Regions from separate parts of the Homo sapiens genome. Here region 1 is linked to region 2. A link means that fine-mapping ties the variant in region 2 to the expression of a gene that starts in the linked region. Tissue or cell type: cerebellar hemisphere. Region 2 holds a variant in brackets; the other region holds the start of a gene. All regions are shown on one strand. Distances are from middle to middle.

Evidence for each region. PIP is the estimated chance that this variant, and not a neighbour inherited with it, causes the effect.
Region 1: it holds the start of FAM135A, and the variant in region 2 is fine-mapped to the expression of FAM135A in cerebellar hemisphere (GTEx, PIP above 0.99).

What each region holds. Positions count from the first base shown.
Region 1 is chr6:70,409,404-70,417,514 of GRCh38, forward strand. It overlaps FAM135A (family with sequence similarity 135 member A), which reads left to right and starts at 4,105. Exons shown (of 22, transcript NM_001162529.3): 1 at 4,105-4,299; 2 at 5,888-5,973. It overlaps FAM135A-AS1 (FAM135A antisense RNA 1), which reads right to left and starts at 4,555. Exons shown (of 2, transcript NR_147708.1): 1 at 4,434-4,555; 2 at 3,425-3,659. RefSeq lists silencers at 3,912-4,131, 4,472-4,621.
Region 2 is chr6:70,485,591-70,493,701 of GRCh38, forward strand. It overlaps FAM135A (family with sequence similarity 135 member A), which reads left to right. Exons shown (of 22, transcript NM_001162529.3): 11 at 5,444-5,493. Among named protein-coding and RNA genes, the nearest start is that of FAM135A-AS1, 76 kb to the left of the region's middle. The variant C/T (reference allele first, on the strand shown) is at 4,084.

The sequences.
Region 1 (8,111 bases), 76 kb before region 2:
AAATATAGCTGTGTTAGACATAAACATGGGAACAGTAGACGCTATGGACTACTAGAGGAGGAATGGAGGCAGTGGAGTGTGGGTTGAAAAACTACTTGCTGGGTACTATGCTCACTATCTGGGTACAATATACCCCTGTAACAAATCTGAACATACACCTTCTATATCTAAAATAGAAGTCGAAATTAAAATGTGTGTGTGTGTGTGTATATATATACACACGTATATATATATGTATATATATGTGTATATATATGTGTGTATGTACATATATATATAGTTGTGGAATAACTTTGACTATATCTCATTTTTAATTTTCAAATAATGACCATACTTACAACAGGAATATTTTAAAAATCATAAAGCCCAGTAAGGAAAAAGCCAGCTTAATTTTTTTTTTTAGTAAATTAATGTTTAGCATCTGACAAATATGAGACATCCTTCATGAGGCTATTTTCTTTTTCTTTCTTTCTTTTGTTTTTTTTTGAGATGCAGTCTTGCTCTGCCGCCCAGGCTGGAGTGCAGTGGTGCAATCTCGGCTCACTGCAACCTCTGCCTCCAGGATTCCAGTGATTCTCCTGCCTCAGCCTCCCAAGCAGCTGCGATTACAGGCACTCACCACCACGCCTGGCTAATTTTTGTGTTTTTGGTAGAGACAGGGTTTCACTATGTTGGCCAGGCTGGTGTCGAACTCCTAACCTCGTGATCCACCCGCCTAGGCCTCCCAAAGTGCTGGGATTACAGGCATGAGCCACTGCGCCCGGCCTTCATGAGGCTGTTTTCAAATTTACAATATTCATTTCTTCTACTGTCTCAATCTTTAGCTGAACCAATGTTGTGCAACCGAGAAAGGGAGAGATAACCTGATCTTTGGATTAAGAGAATACTCCACAGTTAGAAGGGTTTAGCAAACATTCAAAAACACTCCATGCCAAAGTTAAATTATGTAAACCAATTACAAGATAGAAAGGATTCCAAATCTTATATTCCTTGAGCACAACATAGATTGAAAAGGACACATATATAACATAAAATGTTAATGTACATTAAATGTGACACAAAACTGTTTATTAGCAGCATAATGGGTGACACCAAACTTGGGAAGATAAATATGGGAAGTAAATTTAGAATCAGGAAATTTCTAGACAAATTTCTAAAGGAATTCAAAGTCTATATAATGTGATTATCTTCTTATATTTGAGAGAAAACAGACCTAGAGAAGATAAGAGACTCTCAAGATAACACAGTATACTGTAGACTCTAGAATTAGAACCAGGTAATCTGACAATTAGATCAGTATGCTATACTCTCTAGTAGTCTGTACCTCAGTAGATGCCATAAATTTTCGTATTTCTTATTGTTTTTGTTGTTGTTGTTGCTGTTCGTTTTGGTTTTTTTTGCGATGGAGTCTCACTCTGTCACCCAGGCTGGAATGCAGTGGCACGATCTCGGCTCACTGCAACCTCCACCTCCCAGGTTCGAGTGATTCCCATGCCTCAGCCTCTGGAGTAGCTGGGATTACAGGCGCCTGCCACCACGCCCGGCAATTTTTTTATTTTTAGTAGAGATGGGGTTTCTCTACTAAACCCAGGCTGGTCTCAAATTCCTGACCTCAAGTGATCTGCCTGCCTCGGCTTCCCAAAATGCCGGGATTACAGGAGTGAGCCACCCCAGGTGAATTTTCTTATTTCTTTAAGAGATTATTTTATATTCTTCTATCAATAGATAATTACCAGGAAGTCCTGCTAAATCTCTAGGTTAGTTAAGTGCTCCTCTTCTGGGTTCCCAGACAACCCCGTACCTACCCCAATTTTAACTCTGTAGCAGAACTTGTTTTTTTTTTGTTTTTACATGCCTGTCTACCCCTGCTAGATTGCAAACTCTGAGATTTTAGACTGACCCTTAACTTTCATTATATCCCTCAGTAACTAGCACAGTATTTGGCAAATATCTAATAAGCTATATATATATATATAATGGTTGAACTGATTTGACTTTTTTTGAAGGCTCACCATGATCCTTGTCAACTTCTCCAGCCTCACATCCCTAAACAGTGGCATAGAAGTCTTAGTTTTAGTTCAGCACAAAGACCAGTTTCTTACTGTACAGCTTCTGTTCAAGCAATCCTTTTCCCTTTACTCCTCCCAACCGCCACCACAAGACATCCCACTTCAACTCTCTGGAATCATTTTCTCCTGGAAGTTTTTCCTGACCCATGACCTCTTCCCAAAGTTGGATTAATGCTTCTTCTGAGCTTCAATAGCTCTCTGTGCATTTATCTCTGCACTATACACATTACATCATAGGGTAATAATGCAAACACTCCACCCAAGTTCTTTTTCATTCATGTTGGTATCTTCCAAGATTAGCACACTGCCTGGCACACAGCAGATGAGTTAACAATGTGATTTGAATAAAAAGAACGTGGAACAGGGAAAGAATCTTGGCACACTGTGTGTTTTAGGGATGCACGGACGTGGAAATGCAAATAATTGGTTGTTTACTATATTTTCCTAAGACATGGCTGGAACTAAAAAAAAAACAGAAAAAGCCTTTCCAATTTTGAGGCTAAAGTTCAAGTCACAAAACAAGCAATAAAAGCCTGTTTAGCAAGGATAGTAAAATGGTATAGGGCTATAAAAGAAGGGACAAATTAGAAATCAGGAAAGCAGGCCATTCATACAAATGCAAATAAATTGGTTCACAGGATAAGAGGACACCCAATCATGTAAAAACTGGTACAAGCCAGGCACGGTGTCTTAGGCCTGTAATCCCAGCACTTTGGAAGGCCAAGGCGGGTGGATCACCTAAGGTCAGGAGTTCGAAACCAGCCTGACCAATATGGTGAGACCACGTCTCTACTAACAATACAAAAAGTAGTCAGGCGTGGTGGTGTGCGCCTGTAGTCCCAGCTACTAGGGAGGCTGAGACAGGAGAATTGCTTGAACTCCGGAGGCAGAGGTTGCAGTGAGCCGAGATCACATTACTGCACTCCCGCCTGGGCGACGGAGCAATGCTCTGTCTCACACACACACTCGAAAAAAAAAAAAACTGGTACAAAGATATATTCAAAACCTGTCCCCTAAATGGCCTACGTTACAAGACCTCACCATTACTTTCAAATGAATGCACAAAGCTTTTCCCTTCTAATTCATTCTTATTGTGGTAAAATATACATAACAGAAAATTTACCATTTTAACCATTTTTAAGTGCACAGTTCAGTAGCATTATGTCCATTCATTGTTGTGCAACCAACACCACTATCCATCCTAGATTCATTTTTAAAACAAGAGTCGCAGCTGAAATTTTCCTTTCATTAACTCAGCTTTAGCAACATACTGAACTTTATGCACCACAAAAGTTTTTGCCAGATAAGGTTCAGAAACAGGGAAGAGTGAAATAAATCAATGATCCTTCGTGGGCTTCTGTTAACGGAATGTATTAGCGAAAGGCTTCACTTCATCAGCCCCCTCCCGCCCTTTTTGGCGTCATAAACCAAGAAACAACCAGATCAGCACCCACATCTCCCAAGATGCAAACACTGGGTCCCGAAAGGCATCTGTCCTGCCCCGGCGCAGATCCCCTGCAGCCTCCTTTCCTACTGCACAAATCGACTAGCGCAGGGACCGGGCTCTCTACCCGGGACTGCACGGAGGAGCTAAAGAGAGAAAAGGAGAAACAACATTGTGAGAAAAACGGCTAAAGTTCTCGAACTCCGTGTTTTTGCCCTCTTCTTGTTCACTACTCTTCAACCACCTCCAAGTTCCATCCCTTAAACCCACAAGCGAGCCCCTTTTCTTGACGCGCGCCTTTTATTGACGCAAACCTCCCGTTCTCGCGGGAACTTGGGAACGGGAGCCTGGTAGGGAGGACAAATCTCTCGAAATCTCAGTTGGCGCTGGAGCTGGAGGGGCAGTTGAAGCTCCTGAAGGGCGGGGCACGGAGCTTGAAGGGGCGGGGCCTAGCCTCAGAGAGGGGAGGGAAGAGGCGGGAGGAGGAGGTGAGAGAGGCCGGGGGCGGGGCCGTGCGGCCGGGGACCTGTTGATCGCAGGTATAGCCGGCTGGCCCGGGCTCCCTCGGGACTGGGGCGACTGCGCATGCTCGCTGGCCGCGCTGGGCCAGTAGCCGAGCCGCGGTGACGAACCGGCTCCGCGGTTGCGGTGTTTGCGGTTGCTGTGATGGCGATGTGAGGGGGCCCGGGGCGGGATGGTGCTGACCCGGGTCGGGCCGTCTTCTTGCAGCTGGACAACGAGCTCCTCCGTTCGACAGGCGGGGGAAGAGGCCGAGCCGGGCGAGAGGTAACCCCCTTACTGTCCCCTCTGGCTCCCCCGGCTCCCGACACCCACGACCCCTCCCTCCGTCCCTCTTGCCCAGGGGCCAGGAAGGAAGCGGCCTCCTCTTCGTCCGCCGTTCGCCCGCCGCGGCCCCTCACCCGACTGCTGGCGGTCGGAGCCTGGCCCCGGCCCCGTTGAAGGTCGGTGGGGACGGCGGTGCGGAGCGCTCTGAGGGAGGCGAGGGGCCGCGGCGCGCTGCTCTCCCGGTGCCCGCGGCCGCCCCTGCCCCTGCGCGCGTCCCTCGACCCGTTCTTCCTGAACCTCGCGCCTAGCGTGTTTGCCCTTCACCCCTGCTCCATCTTCGTCGCTCTGTCCCTCCTTTACCCGCTTTCGTGGTTCTGCTTTTTCATCCCGCGCCTCCCACGTGTCTTTTTGCCCGGGTGGTCCCTCCTTGGGAAGCAGCGTATCTCTGTGCTTCCATCCCTTGCCTGGCTCTTCCCTGTCCGGAGCTCCTTACCCTGGCCGACCAGGTTTCTCACTCTTGTTACCTCCATAATTTCTTCCTTGGTTTTATTTTCCTCTCATCCACCTCCTTTCGGTACTTCCTCCTGGTTCCCTTTTTGTTAGTTGCCGATTGTGTTTTGCTTTAGCATCGCTTTGCATTGGAGTTCATTCCATGCCCCATCTTAGCTTCGGAAACCCTCACTGCCTTCTCTTTCCTCTGGTACCCTGCTTCATCGCTTTCTGTCTAATGGCCCCTATCCTCACGTCCTTTTCCATTCTGCACCCAGTGAGTCTCTAATCTTAATTTTTTCCCCTCCAAAACTCTTCCACCCTCCCCCCCCCATTTGTATAAGTCAAGCCTCTTAACTTCATTCCATTTGTTTTACTTTTTATTAAATCTCTGAAGACTTCTTTGTGACATACCCTTCTAGTCCTTGCTGCTTTCTGCCTAAGCTAGGTATCCACTCAATGTTTCTAGTTCATCTTCCAGTTTAATAACATTTCTTCTTTCTTTACCGGTTGGTGGAAGTATCATCAAAAGAGTGACAGTAGCAACAAATCGGTTACACTTACTGATTAAAGCTTTAATTTTTAAGAATTATGTTTACCTGGCATGCCTGGGAAAGCAACTTGAGTACAGACTAAATGAAACTATAATGGGTTAAGACTTGTTAAAGGTTGACCTACAAACATACACTTAAAATTTGGAAATTTTCTTGTCCTCCATTAGGTGTAGCTGTCCAAGAACTAATCTTAAATGAAATTTAACAGAATTTCTTTTTTAAAATGTATTATTAATTTGTTTTATACATTTGCTATTGCAATTGATTGCATAATTTTCCTGAGAGTCTCTGTTCTCTAATAAATGCATACAATTTCTGCTACCTTTAGAATTAGTGTGCTTATAGGAGACATACGTGAGAAGTATTAAATTTTTTAATTGAGCAGAAGAACTTTCTAAACGGTTTTGTAATTTTTTTCCTCCATTGCATTGTGATCAAGATTTGGCTTAAATAAAACTTCTCTTTCCATAAATAATGGTATAGTATCTTATTTTGAAGGCATCTGCTGAAGCAATTATGTTTAGTGAAGTTTGTCTTTATTGTAGGGTTGAAGATCAACTGGATTATGTATTTGGTTCTGGAATCTCAAAGCAGTCCACAAACAAATTCTTCCTTATGTTGTCTGTGTCAGGTAGGAATTAAGTTTTCTGTTTCTGTTTTAAGAAGGGAAATACCAAGGCAAAAAAAAAAGTGTAGTTCCTTATTCAAAGTGATTTAAAGTAAAACTAGGAGGCTCTGGTGTCATCAAACCACACTTCTTTGAGAAGAACTAGCAATTGTGTATGGTAAGAGGTGATGCACTCATCAGCTTTTAAGATTTTTTAAAAATGATTTTTCAAATGCAAATAAAGAAACTGCTGCTTCTCAAGGAAGCTTGCACTTCCTTCAAATAAAAAGCCAGGTCTTTTTATTTTTAGGTAAACATTCATTTTAAAAAAGTAAATGCCTACAAATTCTTGCTGGTATTTTTAGTGAGTTGGTTCCTGTGCTCTTATAAATTAAATAGGGATTTGTGGTGGACAGCAGGCAGAAGACTAGAATTTCTAGTCAGAATATATGAACTCTTATGATGACTCATGACATTAGTTTGTAGAACCCACTTAACCTGTGTATCTCAGTATCTCCAGCTGTAAAGTAATTAATAGCAAAGCAAGCCCTAATCATTTAAACATGCTTAGGGCCACCGCAGACAAAAATTGCTATATAAATACTTAGTTTTTATCTCTTTAATTTTAGACTGTGTAGTAAGAGTATAATTGACTGCTTAAATCCCAAATCAAACATTTCTTTTTTAAATTTCAGACTTCTGTGAAAAGTCTAGTAGAATGCTGGTGAACTGTGGACTAGCACTCTATTAGACTTTTCTAATGTACTAGATAGATGTACCAAATAAAATGACCTGGCTTTGAAAGAAGTGCAAGCTTCCTTGAGAAGCAGCAGTTCTAATGTACTAGAGTTTTCTAATTAGTACATTAACTAATGTTCACACATTAGTTAATGTTCATACACAGTGAAACAGACACTGCAGCATTCAGTTTGTAAAACAGATATTCCTTTTGTTTGCCACGAGTTGACACTGAAAGGAAATGTAAGAGTTACACCTATATCTTTAGTTAATCCTTAATTTTCTGTTTTATATTTTTATTTTGTTTACATTAAATAAAATCTTTATTTTGTTTACATTAAATCCTTGTTGTGAGGGCTGTTTAGGGGGTAGAAAAGCCAAGGATTTCCTTTGCTTTGATTCTAGGTATTGAGGAAAAAGTGCTTTAACATTGAGTTTTTTATATGTACATGTGTGCATTTAAATAAATGGATGGAGCTGAGGGCATATAGATTTGAAGTGTTTTTTCATGAGTTGTTTGTCAGGAAGAAGGTTTAGAGATGACTAGGAATAAGGTGGGGTGTGGTGGCTCATGCCTGTAATTCTAGCACTTGGGGAGGCTGAGGCAGGAGGATCTCTTGAGGCCAGGAGTTCAAGACCAGCCTGGGCAACAGAGCGAAACCCTCTCCTAATTAAAAGAAAGAAAGAGGAATAAGAAGCAGAATGGTAATATAGAAGAAATCATTCTTAATGGACTCAGTGGTTTTTCAGAAAAGTTACAAAGCATAAGTGATTAGGCAGGTCTAGGTTTTTCAGAAGGAATAAGGTGAAACAACTCCACAGTAGGTTCACATTTTATTTTTAAAGATTGGCAGTTGTTAACAGGTACATACTTGGTTATTGATAATGTGCTAAATTTAGAAGAAATATTAGCTTCTTTTTTCCTAATAGAAATGTAAAAGTATCAGGCATATTATACCATTAAGAGACATCTCCTACTTGAGTAACTAACCCTTCAGGTAGTTCTTATTTTGATGAAAAAAATTTGATAAACTATCTCTCAACCGAGAAACCATTCTGAGAAAATTATAGCATATTTCCTTTTATGGCATTAGGTCTCTATGAGATCATACAGAATATAGAACATATTTCTAAATTATGTTATAAATATATTGATAATAGACTGGGACTTTTTTTTTTTTTTTGACAGAGTCCCACTGTATTGCCTCTACCTCCCGGATTCAAGCGATTCATGTGCCTCAGCCTCCCAAGTAGCTGGAATTACATGCCCAGGCCACCACACCTGGCTAATTTTTGTATTTTTAGTAGAGATGGGGTTTCACCATATTGGCCAGCAGGTCTCAAACTCCTGGCCTCAAGTGATTCTCCCGCCTCAGCCACCCAAAGTGCTGGGATTACAGGCATGAACTACTATGCCTGGCTGT
Region 2 (8,111 bases):
TACTTACCACTTTCATTGAGTTTTCAAATAAGCATATATTTAAACTTCTTAAACTTGACTATGCTTTGAAAACTTTTCTAAAATATGTTCCCTCTTTTAAAATAACGCCTTGAGTTCCTTTCGGCTTTTTTGCCTTTCTCTTTTCTCCCAGATGAATGATGTACATTTTCTGATGACATATAATTAAATATTGGTTTGGTGCAGGGAGCTCTTACTGAACATGAGAGTCAGGAGTTCTGGAATTAGGTTTGGGCAAGTCACATAGCCTATATGAACCCCAATATCTACACTTGTAACAGCAGGGAGTTAACTCTGAGATCCCTGCCAACCTAAAATTCTGAGTCTAATTAATTAAGACATATTGGATTATGAAATGTTGAGTGGCACATACATTTAAATTAAAAAACCAAAGAAATATATACTTGAATGTACATCATTTGTAATTTTGATAAGCTAATTAACTAACTGCACTATCAGATCAACACTAAGTCTATTATTAACAAGTTGGAAAATTCTAGTAAGTTTTGTTGTGAAAGGAGTATAGTAACTAGTGCTGTGTGCAATCCTTATGACTAGCCAAGGCCAACATGCAGCTCCTATATGAGCGTCTTCTCAGAAGAAAACAGCTACGAACACAGAAAGACAACCATCTAGGTACGTTTACAAATAGCTTAAGTAAATGATCCCTTTTAATTAAAAAGTATGAAATTTTGCTTTAAATTAGCATCAGATTTCATAAATGTATATTTAATAATGTGGTATGTTTCCACCATTCTGAAGAACTTACCTTTAAAATCAATTTGGTTTGTAGATAAATTTTGGTTAATTTCCTAATTAATTTGTAATATTGAAGTTTTTACTTAAATCTGGAAATGGTAAATGCAAAACTCACTGGCTTTTTTCATATGTTTTTTAAAGTTTCTATGAAGAGCACTTTTTCAAAACCATGATTATTACTACAATTTGTTGGTTTAATGACATCGCCTTAAATTTGCTCAGTTATTTTATCTTTGGCTAGGCCTAGTGATAATGAAATGTGATTTTAAAACTAAACCAGGCCGGGTGCGGTGACTCACGCCTGTAATCCCAGCACTTTGGGAGGCCAAGGTGGGCAGATCACCTGAGGTCAGAAGTTGGAGACTAGCCTGACCAACATAATGAAACCACGTCTCTACTAAAAATACAAAATTAGCCGGATGTGGTGGCGCATGTCTGTAATCCCAGCTACTCGGAGGCTGAGGCAGGGGAATTGCTTAAACCTGGGCAGTGGAGATTGCAGTGAGCCGAGATCGTGCCATTGCACTCCAGCCTAGGCAACAAAAGTGAAACTCTGCCTCAAAAAAAACTAAACCTAGTTTTCTGCACTGCAGAAATAGAGAAGAGATGGGAGGCTGAGGCAGGAGAATTGCTTGAACCCAGAAGGTGAAGGTTGCAGTGAGCCAAGATCGTGCCACTGCACTCCAGCCTGGGCAAGAGAGTCGGACTCCCATCTCAAAAAAAAAAAAAAAAAAAAAAAAAGCTTTAAAAAAAGAAATAGAGAAGAGAAATATCCTATCAGGATCTGGGTTGTGTTGTATGTTTGTTTGTTTGTTTTAGTCAATTTGCATTTATTTTTTGTTATTCTACATTTAAAAAGCAAAATAACATCAAATCACCACTCTCTGGATATGTTATGCATGGTAAAGGAAATGTTCTGATCTCATTATTTTATTATACATTTTCATATATATGTTAGACTTTTCTTGAATAGCCATAATTTATTATCTATGAGTATATTAAAAGTTTTCACTTTGCGTTCAGTAAACCATCACAATTTTTTAAAAAATTATGAAAAGCTGTAGGAATCAAAAAGTGAAATAAAATAAGTATTTATTTCCCAATTTTCAGAGGTATGAAATGAAGGAAGTTAAAAAGCCAAAATCTATCTCAACATTTCTCAGGTGAAAACTAACTCAGAAATATTTGAGTTGTGTTAATTTTCACTAAGACTGTTAAGGGAAACTGATTTTCTTGTCAGGAAGGAAAAAGAAGAGTTGAAAATTTATTGTCATTCTTTCTGGAACATAGTATTATATTCTCATATAAAGTTACTGTAAAATTAAAGAATTCATAGTATGAAACTGTGGCCATTTATGACATTTTAGCATTTTTTAGCAATTAAAATATACTTCTAATTTAAACTATTTTATTGCCAGCCTATCAGTTTACATGTGAGCATTCTAAATAATTTTACAGAATGCAGTTTAATGTAATAAGATCTATTTTTTAAAAATGGGCCAGATCTTGGTTGAGTAGAAAAATACTTAATTTTCAAAACTAAAACATAATGAAGTTAGTTAACACTTTTGTTGAGATATCTTTTATCCTTAAACCTAACATTGTATTGCCGTTGTCTGAGCTGTGTTATAAATATTTGTTGAATGAATGGATAGATTTAGAAAATAAATGTTAGATACATGTACCCTTTGACCTAGCATCCCCACTTCTGTTCACCTGTATCATAGAAATAGCATACTAGGTAGTATGTAAAGATACAGGTACAAGCATGTTTATTGCAGTATTGTTCTTAGTGGCAAAACAGTATAAACAAAGATCAATGCCCATTATTTGGGCAAAGAGTGGAATACAGAATATATCATGATGCACCCACATCAAGGAATACTGTGTAGTCATCTTAAAAAATGCTTTAGTGCTAGGTACCAGAATACTGTGGGGTAATGCTGAGAGAAAAAAAGCAAGATGCAAAAAATTGTGCAAAATACAATCCTATTTTTATAAAACAGTGACTCCAAAACTCATATGTGTATATGTATATTTGAAAAATATGGAAGGATATGCTCTAGACTGTAACCTTGGATTAGTAATAAGAGCCAAGCCCCCCCCCCCAGAAATATATGATAATCATCACATTTATACATTTCTATAAAACTGTATAAATGGATATACAGTATACCCTTGAATAACACCAGAACTGGGGCACTGACCCCTGTACAGTTAAAAATATACCTGTAACTTTTGACTCCTCTAGTACTTACCAACTAATGGCCTACTATTCACTGAAAGCCTTACAGATAACATAAACAGTTGATTAATACATAAAAAGACTAGTATCTACATGTTTTTATGCAATCATGACATATTCATCTTTCTTAATTTTTTCAATATTTCTAGGCTACATAGTTTGCAAGTTTCATATTCTTTCCAAAATATTTATTGAAAAATACTTGTGTATAAGTGCACCTGCGTAGATCAAACCTATGTTGCTCAAGGGTCTGTTATATATGTCACTTTAAAAAGAAAAAATAATTAAAATAGGATTTTAAACTCCCTTAAAAATCTAAGTGATTTCAAAATTATTTTCAGTTCTAAGATTTTAGAGTTAAATTATGCTTTTAAACATTCTTTAAGATACTGTTTGCATTGAAGTAGCTCTCAGTAGCTATAATGCAAACATACCCATTTATGCAGTTAGGTTCTTCTATGTAAACATTAGAAAAATGTGTCACAACTCTCAAAACCTTATTTTCTAATTTTTAAAAATCAGAGGTAGAATATGTAATTTCTAAGACTAACTTTACTGATTTTTTTTCTGTCACAGGAAAAGATCATGAGTAATGTGAAAACAGATGGTGGTTTTAATGCAGAGTCTGTTGCTGGTTTTTTAGTTTTGGAAAGCCCAATATTAGAAGCCACTGGTTTATCTAACAGTGAAATGATTTGTGAAATCATTGCAAATTTCTTTAGTTACCAACAAGTTGGCCAAATTAGTGATCTATTTTTTGGTATATATCAATATCTAAATACAATTTACTTGTATATTTTGTGAGTTATGAAATACATGTGTTCCATTGATTTTTAGTTAACAACAGAGTATTTGTTGTTTATGTTACCGGGTGGGGTACAGCGTCCTTGATTCTTGTTGAAGGAAGAATTCAGCCAAGAGACACGCAGCAAGGGTTAAGCAGCAGAATTTATTTAAAGAGACAGTAGTATACTCTGAAAGATAAAGCAGAGCAAGCTTCTGGAGAGAGTGAGCTAGCAGCAGCCAGTGCTGGGGAACTCTATGAAGAATACATGATTATT[C/T]ATGAAAGGGCATGAGGAGGTGTCACTTGCAATCATGTTTTAGATGATCCCCTTGGGCATACATGCTCTGTAGTTGTACATGCTAGTACACACGTTGCTTGTCTCGTTAGCATTTAAAATCTCCACCTAGGGATGTGTTTTTTACTATTATAATGAGCAAAAGACCACTCTAGGGTGAGTTATTGGAGGAGTGCACATGCTTCAGGGTCGCAGGAGCCCAACCACAAGGCCAGGTATAACCAATATAGCCGTTGTCCTTTTTGCTGTCAGTGGGCGACATCTCCAGGACTTCTTTGCCCAGAGGCTCCCTTGCCTGCTCGTATCTGGCCGTCTCCCCACTCTAACAATTATACTGTGGTTGTGTTTTTACCACATAATTGTGATTGCTTTTTTAAACAAATTTAAATGTTTATCATTTTTATCATGTAGTAAACATTCAGTCTGTTTTACAAATTAGTCAGCTGATGAGTGAATTCAGGGATGTTATAGAATGTGTTCTTGCCTTTGTGTGAGAAAGATCAATTAAACTCTTTCACAACAAGATTATGGGAATTTTGTATGATTATAACTATGCTGTTACAGTTCTTTTAAAAGACCTGTTTGATTTCTACTTAAAAATTAAGTGTATGTAAAGATATTTCAGACATTAGTGTAATTCCTCCCTGCCAAAAATAAATAATTTATAAATCTTTATATTTTGTTAGTTTCTGTTTTTCCTGGTAAATATTATCATTTTAATTGTAAATTTGTGCACCTCTTTATAGATTATTATAGCATACATTAAGTAAATCAGAATTCTATGCAAATATCTGCCTCAGTTTAAGAATATTTTATAGAAAAATAAATACATTAGGAACTAACTATTAAAGGATCTTGACATTCATTTTTATTAAATAGCCTACACACCAGGTATGTTTTAAATGTTTCAGTGATAAAATTAATTTTACTTGAGCATTTTAGGAATAGCTTTTGTAAAACACAAGAAAGCAAGGCATATGTATATATAACACAAAATACTAAACTGTACTGGAAATTATAAAATATGAAATACAGTAAAATCTAATTATATAGTTGGTCTTTTCTGTGACACAGTTGTGCAAGTTACTTTATGTATATAGTTAATATTTCCTTGACAGTGTTAACTCTTGTGAAAAATAAAAAATGATATTTATCAGAATGTAGAATTTAATAATCACATTACCTATGTAATTAATATGTTTATGAAAATATGTTACCTTGAAATTTAATTCATTGAATACAGTCCAGATCATTCTTAATTTTCAGTTTTTTATGGGAATTTTATTTATATAAATTAAATATCTAACATTGGAATATTTCCTCTACTCTTTACTCCTTCCAGAGGAAATGGATGTAGAAGCTCGACTTACTGAACTATGTGAAGAAGTTAAGGTACTTGGATTTTTTAAATTCACATCATCAAGTTATTTGAGTGGTTTCTGTTTCCTATTCTAAATATTTTGTCTATGAAAACTTAAAGTATTTATAGTTCCTAAAATGCAAAGATAAAATGGTTGATCATGGTAGAACCACAACTTAGGTGGTCAAAATTCATTTGGCTTCAGCATGAAGTTAACTTACCTTTTAAAAAGTATATTATTCTTCATATAAATGAAATAGCAAAGATAATTAACTGATCAAACAGTACATTTTCTTCTGTTCACTCACTCAATTTCTGGACACATTTTTAAAACATCACTTAAACTTGTAAAATGATACTGTTTAAAAATGAAAAATTTGTTTTATTTCAGTAGATCAATTTGCTTCTCAGATCATTTTTTCAGTTCACTCTTGCAATTAAATTGAATATATTTGCCTTTCTTTTTCTGAGAAACTAAATGCTTTAACTATTTAAATGTATGTTTCACTATGCATTCACTCTTGGTCAGCTACATTAATGGAAGAAATCAGAGGTGTGAATCAAACAAAAATATGTATTTGGTTTGGATATACTTTTGGATATAAATTTGAATGAAGACTAGACCTGTTCAAAAAGGTATTCTCCTTAGAAAATTATACATACGCAGGATACATCAGTTTTGTATACTGTCCTAGAGGTTTTCTCTGCAGTTCAAGTAAGATATTTTCTTTAAAAAAGTCACTAATGTGCTTATGATAATTGCTCAAAAGAACATTAAACATTTAAAAATAATCTTAAGATGTGTGCAGTTAATATGAAATCATCTGCAGTGTTTCACTGAGCTATTAAAGAAAATTTGAATAAATATACATATGATACTCCTGTAGATAATCACTAAAAGATATCAAATTTTACTCCAGTCAATCATTTTAATGAGTCCAAACCAAAATCCCACTGGAAATTTAAGCTTGTTTTTAAAATCATTTCAAGAAATGTAAAGATGGCTAAGAAAAACTTTTTTTAAAATAATGTAATTTTTAAATAATACAAATGTAGAAAGACTTGCTCGACTGGATACTAAAATATATGTAAAATAATAAAAATGAAAGGAAATAAGGTAGGATTTCTCTAAAAGAATAAAAAGACAAGTCAGAGGAATTAAACAGCCCTAAAATAGTCACTATTATGTTTAATAACTAAGTATATGATAAAATATTAACATCAGGGTCTATAAATATTGTGGTAAAGTTAACGTCATGCCATGCTATAGCAGCAGTTCTAAGTGGACTGAAGACTTAAGTGTCCAAAGAAATTAGGAAGAAAAAAATTACATATATATGTAAATATAAACAATCTGATCTTGGGATATGAAATGACTCCCTCAGACAATTTTTAAAAAGATAAGTTTTTTAAAGACCAATAAAAACCTAAGGGACAAAATAAGACATTGATGATTTGAAATTTCTTTGTAACAAAATATACTATAAATTTGAAAGCAAAGGATAGACTGGAAGAGAATATTTGCAATATTTAAAACAGGCTAATGGTCAGTGCTCACAATATATAACATGCTCTCATGTATCAATTTTAAAACAACACCCTTGTAAAAAAAAAAAAAAAAGGATACAATGAGGCAGTGTACAAATAACAAATTCTTAGCAGAATAATTTAGCTCCTGAAATGATACTCATTCTTACTGGAAACCAGGGGAATGCAGATTCTAATAGGTTATTTTTTTTGCCTATGAAATTTGCAAGAATAAAAGTGACTACTGAGCTTCATTTTTTGTAAGAGTGTAGTGAAACTAGTATCTGCATACCCTGTTGGTGATGGTATAAATTGGCACAGTATTTTTTAACATTAGTGCATTGATGTATTTTTAAAACACTTATATATTGCACAATTATCAAATCTGCACAGCAGTTTTTATTTGATAATCTGTTCTACAAAAATACTCATAAATGTACACAAATATAAGGAATTACATCATTAATTATTATCAATTCCCATGTAGCCATTTAAAAGCATTAGGTGGATCTCTATGAAATTGTCATGAATTATTTAATTCAGAAAATATTTATTAATCCATGAAGCTTGATACTGTTTGCGTGCTGAAAACTCTTCAAGATATATTAATTGAAAAAAATAAAGAAAAATATGAATAATATGATTTCATATAGTATGTTAAAACTAAAAAGCTGTTTGTGTATTTTATTGTGTTTATGTGATTACATATGAAATATTTGAAAGGATATATATATTCCAAGCTTTTAACAGTAATACAGAAAAAAAGTGGCGTGACGAATAAGGTTTGTAAAGGGGAATTTTCTTTACATGCGTCTATATTAAATGTTTAAAAATAACATATGTATCCATGTATTGCTAATAAATTTTTTAGATATACATATTTAAATTTCAGTATGTAAATGGTTGTCATAAACTTTAACATCAACAACCTATAACATATTATAATGCGTCTTGAGACATGGTGAGATACAAATTCTCATACCTTGTATGTCTTTTTCAGGGATTAGTTTGGCAGTACGTATCCACAGCCAGAAAAAATATCTCCTCTTAGTGTATACCAAAAGCTAAACAGAGTTCATGTGAAGATTCATAATATTGTAAAAATGTTTAATAAATGCCCAAT